Linked DNA regions of Homo sapiens. The protein of the gene in region 1 purifies or fractionates together with the protein of each later gene. This does not show direct contact. Each region holds a gene or a part of one and is shown on either strand. Other genes may lie near its edges. The genes, in order: FAM98B and EGLN1.

Evidence for each region.
Region 2: the proteins of FAM98B (region 1) and EGLN1 fractionate together in Homo sapiens (co-fractionation; one large-scale study listed by BioGRID). This does not show direct contact.

Annotation. Positions count from the first base shown.
Region 1 is NC_000015.10:38,460,585-38,464,412, forward strand, and holds part of FAM98B (protein FAM98B), read left to right. Parts: intron 1-3,447; coding exon 3,448-3,593; intron 3,594-3,828. UniProt on the Homo sapiens protein: Positively stimulates PRMT1-induced protein arginine dimethylated arginine methylation.
Region 2 is NC_000001.11:231,366,628-231,370,455, forward strand, and holds part of EGLN1 (egl nine homolog 1), read right to left. Parts: intron 3,217-3,828; exon of another isoform or gene 2,927-3,216; intron 1,010-2,926; coding exon 942-1,009; exon of another isoform or gene 940-941; intron 1-939. UniProt on the Homo sapiens protein: Cellular oxygen sensor that catalyzes, under normoxic conditions, the post-translational formation of 4-hydroxyproline in hypoxia-inducible factor (HIF) alpha proteins.

The DNA.
Region 1 (3,828 bases):
TAAAAGTTTAAGAAGTACTGTTCTAGCCAGAAAAGTGCTTTCATATTCTTATTCGGTTATCTAGCAGAATATACTTAGACACTTCTATTGCCTAAGACAATTAGATACATTTCTGGATGGTGACAGAACAATACAGGCTAAGAGTGTGGGGCTATGGAGGTAGGTTGTGTGGCTCAGTTCCGGGACAGTTGTTAGCTATGATTATGGCCATCCCGGATGAATTATTTACCTTTATCATCCTGAGCTTCCTCATCTGTAAAATGAAGCTAATAATAGTATCTACCTTATAGGGTATTGTGGCAACTAAATGAGACAATTTATATAAATTGTTTAGCACTGACCCAACATACAGTTAGCACTTTCTAAATGTTAGCCACTATTGCGATTTTGATTGTTACTAGATGGTCAGGTATGTTAAATGCATTTATTTGTTCCTCTTTTTATTTTTACTTCATCTGATGAGCTAAGGCATTAAAGATTGGATTTTTTTTTCCAAATTCAGAATTTTTTGTGATTTGATCAGTTCTTGTTGGTTTTTATTATTGACATTTCAGTTAAAAAAACTTACATCAATATGAATTAAATTTCTTCAAGAGTTTATGAGTATTGCTTTATTGCAGAAATGAAAGCAAATAAGAGGATATAAGATGTTTACTATGAAATCTCATTGAGAGGCATTGTAAGACATAGAGGAAGGCTGAGTCATAGAAGAACCAGCCTTGAGCTGGGGGGTGCAGAAATAATATTCTAGTCTCAGCTCTGCCTTTACTTGGCTGTATCAACTGGACCAGATTATTTCCTTAGTTTCCTTATAGTTGTAGACAGAGGTCTAACAAGACCTATGTTAATGATGGAGCATTTGGGTTAAACGTGGATTTAAATCCTAGTGCCATTTTCTGATTCTACAGAATTAGGATAATGCTAACTTAAAGCATTGCTGTAAAGATTAAATGAAATATATATATATATATATGCCTAGCACTGTGCCTGGCCTGCTACATAAAGGCAGGTTTCCTAATGTCATGAAGTCTTAGTTTCTTTACCTACAAAATGAGGATTTGAAAATACTTGTACTTACCCTTCATCTGATATAACCAGAGAATTCAAAGAAAAAGAAATGCAAGTGGCCTTTAAACATATGCAAAGATACCCTACGTCTTGCTTGTAAGAGAAATGTAGATAAAACTATACTGAGTTACCAGATGGTCAAAAATCCAAAAGTTTGACAACTTTGATGAATTATGAGGGAATGGGTACTCGGATACCTTGATGGTACAACCCCTCTACAGGAGAATTTAATAGTATCTGGCAAAGTTATGTATCTATTTACCCTTTGACCCAACAGTCTCACCTCTAGGAATCTATCCTAGATAAAAACTGACAAAAATTTGCCAAACTATATTAACAAAACACTGGAAACAATCCAAGTGTCCTTTAGTAGATGCCGATTAAATAAAATATGGTGCATCCAGACAGTGAGGTAGTATATAACTGTAAAAATGGTTGAATACTATGTCTAAATATTGATCTCTACTCTATGTAAATGTATGTGTGTGTGAGCATGTATGTGTTTAAAGCAAGGACTAGAACAGTACATAGTAGGCTACCTTTTATCTGGAAAAGGAGACAAAAATGCATATATTTATACTGAAAAACATGATGGAAGGACAACCCCAAACTAATAAATATGGTCACCTGTAGGGGAGGGAGAGAACAGAGTAGAGGATACAAGATTAAAATTGCAAACTAGATTTTTCTGATGCATTTTGTTTTTTAAGTTAGACTTTGAAACTGCATTAATGTTTTACATAATTATAAGACAAAAATGAAATAAAAAGAAACAAATCCCTACAAATTAAAGCTGAACAAAACAAATGTCTATTGATATATTGAGTAGGTGGTTTAATCACATGGGAATTGTTTTTCTGTATATCCTTACAGGAATACGTCGTAAATATAAAAAAATTAAACTGTAATTTTATTGTTAGTAGTAATGCTGGATTTCCTATTCTGAAGCCATAAGTAATTTATACCTATTTTAATATATATTAGGAATTTGTAAATGTTATTAAAACAAGAATTGTCATTGTAAGAGAAGATAAATAAAAATGTAAAACAAAATAAGTAAAACCCCTACAATTCTAAATTCCAGTTGGAAATAGCAATATGAAACTGATATAGTTTCTCTGAAAAAGGCATAGAAACAGTGACCAACCTTTGGTAGCAGATTATGTACTCTAAATACCATTAAAAGAATCGGGGCTCCTTGGAGAAATGCCTGATTCCAAGTCTAAGGCAGGAAGATGTTGTTGTAGAAAGCAAGGAAAGTATTCAGAGAGTACGGAGGACAAGACAAAGGGCTCGACTGGCCTACCTGAATGGGCTACTATAAACCAGAGACAGAAGAATTTGAGTATCAAAAGAATAACTGTGATGGATTAAAACACATCAAGTATATTATCTGTGACTTTATAATGTTAACAAAAGTTCAGTTGCAAAAAGAACCATAAAAGTAGAAAACTGATCATCTAATTCAGTTAAGATAGTATATAAAGTGTTTTGAAAATTTAAGATTCTTGTGAAATACAATTTGCAGAAATGTTTAGAAGTGTAAAATTATAAATAAATGAGGCCAGGCACGGTGGCTCACACCTGTAATCCCAGTACTTTGGGAGGCCGAGGTGGGTGGATTGCTTGAGCTCAGGAGACCAGCCTGGCCAACATGGCTAAACCCCCTTTCTACTAAAAATACAAACATTAGCTGGGTGTGGTGGCAGGCACCTGTAATCCTAGCTACTCTGGTGGCTGAGGCATGAGAATCCCTTGAACCCAGGAGGTGGAGGTTGCAGTGAGCCAAGATTGTGTCACTATACTCCTGCCAGGGTGACAGAGTGAGACCCTGCCTCAAAAATAAAATAAAATAAAATAAAATAAAATAAAATAAAATAAAATAGTAAAGTAAAATAAATAAAATAGGTTTAGATTAAAATGATCTAATAGATTCTTTTCAACTTTAGCTTTTTTAAATTTGTAATTTGTGTCTGTGCTTTTTTCACCATATTTTTATTGTAATTAATATAAGGCTATTAGACTTTATGCTGTATTTGACTTTGTGATACCTGTGGTATTTATCTGAAAATTGGTAGATAATTTTACTGTAAAATGTTAAAACATAGGAAAAAAGCCAAATGTTAATTATATAGAGCAGGAATCAGCAAACCATTTCTTTAGAAGGCCATGTAGTCATCATTTTCGGTTACAAATACTTAGCTCTTCCATTGTAGTGTGGAAACAGCCGTAGCCAATTTGTAGATTAATACATTTAATGGCTGTGTTCCAATAACATTTTATTTACAAAAACAAGCAGCAGACCTTGACACAGAGTGTTGGAGGTTTTTTTGTTTGATTGGCTTATTTAGTTTTTAACTTGTATTTCTTCCTTTCTAGGTATAAAGGACCATTGTTAGAAGAGCAAGCCCTTACAAAGGCGGCAGAGGGTGGATTATCTTCACCTGAATTTTCAGAGCTCTGTATTTGGTTAGGCTCTCAAATAAAATCATTATGCAACTTGGAAGAAAGTATCACGTCTGCTGGTATTGCCATTATGTTGTATTTACTTTTCTGTTTAATAGTAAACTGATAACTTACGGTTTATAGTTTTATCAATAATGTGCCCACTGTACAAAGAAAAATCACATATTCCAAAGAATTTCAGTATGTGGTAGTAAACATTTTTGGATTAAATTTTATATTAATCCAGAATTGATATTTAAATTTGCTATAAAACTATAAGCAATTACTATTTATCTGCTATTTTTTTCTCTTCCT
Region 2 (3,828 bases), on another chromosome or scaffold:
CCCTCAGCATTCTATTGTGATGAGGTTTCAAATAGTAAACCTTCAAGGATAAAACCATCCTCTACACAGAGATAATGATTTTGTCTTTTTATTTTAAAAGCCATTTGAGTTTCTTCAACAGAGTGTTCAGTGTCTCTGAAAGCACACTGAGCTTGTGCCACAAATAATGGCTTTAAAAATACATAGAAAATGCATGAATATTCCATTTTTATGTAAGGTCGACGTGCGATTAGCAATGGCTCTGGAAAACACAGCTAATCAGTAATGTGAATACTCAGTGGATTTTTGGAGATAGAAAGTAGAGTTAAAGAAAAGAAGGTAAGTGGTCCATCAGATGGGAAACAGACCCCCTGCTCTTGGAGAGGCAGTCCATAAGTGGAAGAGAAGGGGAACTGGCATAATTAAAGGATCTTCAGGTTCAGTACAAGAGTGCTGACCTATGTACACCATTAGCAGATATGGAATCTACATGTCTGTGTCATTTACTGATTTTGGCATTTGAATTCATAATTCTTTGTATTAATTTTCTTCATGTCTACATTTAACATGGAAGACCTAGAGTACTGTTTAGAGCACATCCATTTGAAAAGGAAAGGGTATTAATTTAAGGAGTGAATGAGAGGAAACCATATGGCCGTTACCTAGAGTTAAGTGGCCTTTGACTGAAAAGGATAATCACAGAAAACTCAGTTTGTATGTGAATAATTTACTCAGACTTCTTTGCCTCAAATTTTCCACATCCTTTGACAATTTTTTTGGTTAAAGATAACAGTGAAGATGACTTATGTCTTCTTAAAAAATGAGGCAAATAAGAAATCTGATAAAAAACAAAAAGTAAGTATTCATGGTGTTAACAAAGACTATGCTTGAGTTTCCTGAAAGCATCACCTGATTGCAGGGTATTTCTGTACCAATATATCCTGGCCCCAAATGACGTTTACCTGTTAGATATTTTACTTTAGCTCGTGCTCTCTCATCTGCATCAAAATACCAAACAGTTATTGCGTACCTAAAAGAAAATTTAGAATAGGATAAGAATGATCACACTGCGGGGAAAAAGTGGTATTTTGCTGCAATGGTATATTAAAACTTGTAATGCCAAAATTATGCCTAAACTGGAATGATATCAAAGGATAAATTTAACAGCTTATTTATACAGTAACCAGGGGAGACTAAAATTGATGTCTGAAGTTGATGAGTTTTTGTGACTTTCTTAATACTTATTTCAACTACTTATTTTTTGCAAGGGAACTGCAGATCAGAAAGAGACAATAGGCCGGGCACAGTGGCTCACGCCTGTAATCCCAGCACTTCGGGAGGCCGAAGTGGGTGGATCATGAAGTCAGGACTTCGAGACCAACCTGGCCAATAGGGTGAAACCCCATCTCTACTAAAAAAAAGAAAAAAAAAATTAGCCGTGCATGGTGGCACATGCCTGTAGCCCTAGCTACTCAGGAGGCTGAGAGGCAGGAGAATCGCTTGAACCCGGGGAGGCGGAGGTTGCAGTGAGCCGAGATCATGCCACTGCACTCCAGCCTAGGTGACAGAGTGAGCCTCCCTCTAAAAAAAAAGAGAGACAATAAAAGGGTAAAAGAATGGCTGTTACAGAAAAAGCACATTATCAATAGCACAAGTACTAAAAGAACAGAAAAGAAACAGATAAAAGGACTCAGGGCATTGCAGGCTAACAGTTTCAACAGTCTCTGGGGACATCACTACATTATAGCAAAGAGTAATGATGGATGTTTACAATTATAACCTTGACAGTTAAATTATGCTAAGAATTTTTAAGGATTTTAATCAAAGCAATTATACTGTGTTTTGTGTTTAAACTTTGTCTAAACTTCATTTTTCTGAAAATCTGACTTAGAATATTTCATTCCACCAATAAGTGAGGCATCTCTAGTTTATTAAATACTACAAAAGACATACTTTCTGATACAAATAATGGGGAAAATGTATAAACGCTATAGGAAGTGAAAGTACGCTACAAATCACCAGTTCCTGGGCAGAATATAGCAATTAGTTCAAATATATTGTGGATTGTGGCCAGTGGACACAGGGGAAAAGGCAACATTTATCAGACATACAGCCAGTAATATGACAGAATGAAAAATCACATAATGTATTTTGAAGTAAAGAGTCTGGGAGTTTGGACAACTGGGAGCCTGACGTTTACAGACCCCACCACTGGTGAATCACAGAGCTGAGGTCTAAGGAGGTCTCCTGACTTCCAGACCAGACTCTGCTCTTTCCAGAGTTCCACTACCTTTCTTACCATGTGGCTTCTTCTACTTTTGGGTGGCCTTGGAAATAGGAAAGGGCTCAGATACATAATTTTATGTATCTTTTGCCCATGCCCTAAACTTTTAGTCACTTAGCAATCAGAATTCTAATATCTGGATCAACAACTTACCTTATGTCATTCTAACTTTCCAGCCTTATCACCCATTCTAGATAAGATCAGAATAGGATTCTACTTCAAGAATCCTTTTCGTCGCATGATTTTCCATGCCTTAACTTGAACAACTACGCCTTTTCCCCCAGAACTTTACTAACACGACTGCACCCCTTGCCTCTCCTCACCTAGGCCAGCTGAGCCTCTCCCTTCAAAGCGCACTTGCCCGTCTCTCCAATGTAGCACCACCTTCGTTCCTCAACTCCTGTAGCACTTAGCCTCCATGCCATCTGGCATTTATTTACTATAAACTCCCAAGTATCTGTTATTTATTCATCTAAAAAGGACGTAACCAAACCAAACTCAGGATTTCATAAAAAGGAAGGTCTATGAGGCAGTTACTGTGTCAGAAAATCTTTACAGAAGCAGCAGGGGGCAGAGACAGCACTGGGATGCCACTGGGAAGAGACATGGGATTGAAAAGGGCACATCATGTGATGTGACAGTCTTTCTTTGGTTTCCATTCAGGATTTCTTACAATCTCCAGCTACAACCTGCTTAGCTTGCTACTCAGTACGTGAATTAGGATGCAGGCAACACACCTCAGAAGGCAGGAAGAAAAAAGGCACAGCTGATAATCAAGTCGTTAGAGTCAACCATCATTACTAAAGCCAACTCTCCACCCAGCGCATCTAAGCCTGTGCCTCTTCTTGCCACCCTAGCATCTCCTAAGCCAGATACAGCAAATGAATGCCGGAAGCTCACTATCAGAATGTTCCAAGACCTTTCCATAATAAAAAATAAGTATTTTTTTTTAATGTGCTATTTTTCTACAAATATTTACTTTCATGATAATGTCTACAATATCTTGTTTTCACAGCCAGAGCATTTTAATTGAGTCAGGATAAATGGTTTTTAAAAAAGCATTTGAAATAAAGCACTAAATATAATAGGTTGCAAATACCTTGTAGAAAAAGTATAATGAAACAGATGCTCATTATTTGTAAAGCTAATAGGATCATTTTTCTAACATTAACTCCCACACATGGTAACCTGTTCTCTACTTTTCTTTCTTCTGTTTTTCTCTTCACTTCTACTCTCTGGTTACCTCTGATTTTTCTACTCTGTATCCATTTTCCTATGTTGTCCCTCACCACCTTTTAAAAAACCCTTTTCCTTCTTGATCTTTCTCTCTCCCAAGTAAAATACTCTTACAAAAATCAAAGCATGGATAGTAGTTAAGAGATGCACAAAGCACGGAGAGAGTGCTAGAAAGATGGGAAGGCCTGTGCTTCCCTTTCTTCAGAGTGGCTGTGCAAAGAAAGACACATTTAGTACTAACTGTTAATGAGTCTTATATAATTATTTGAATTCAGATGACTGTGCAACATAAATCTTATACAATTATTCAAATTAAAATGACTGTGAAA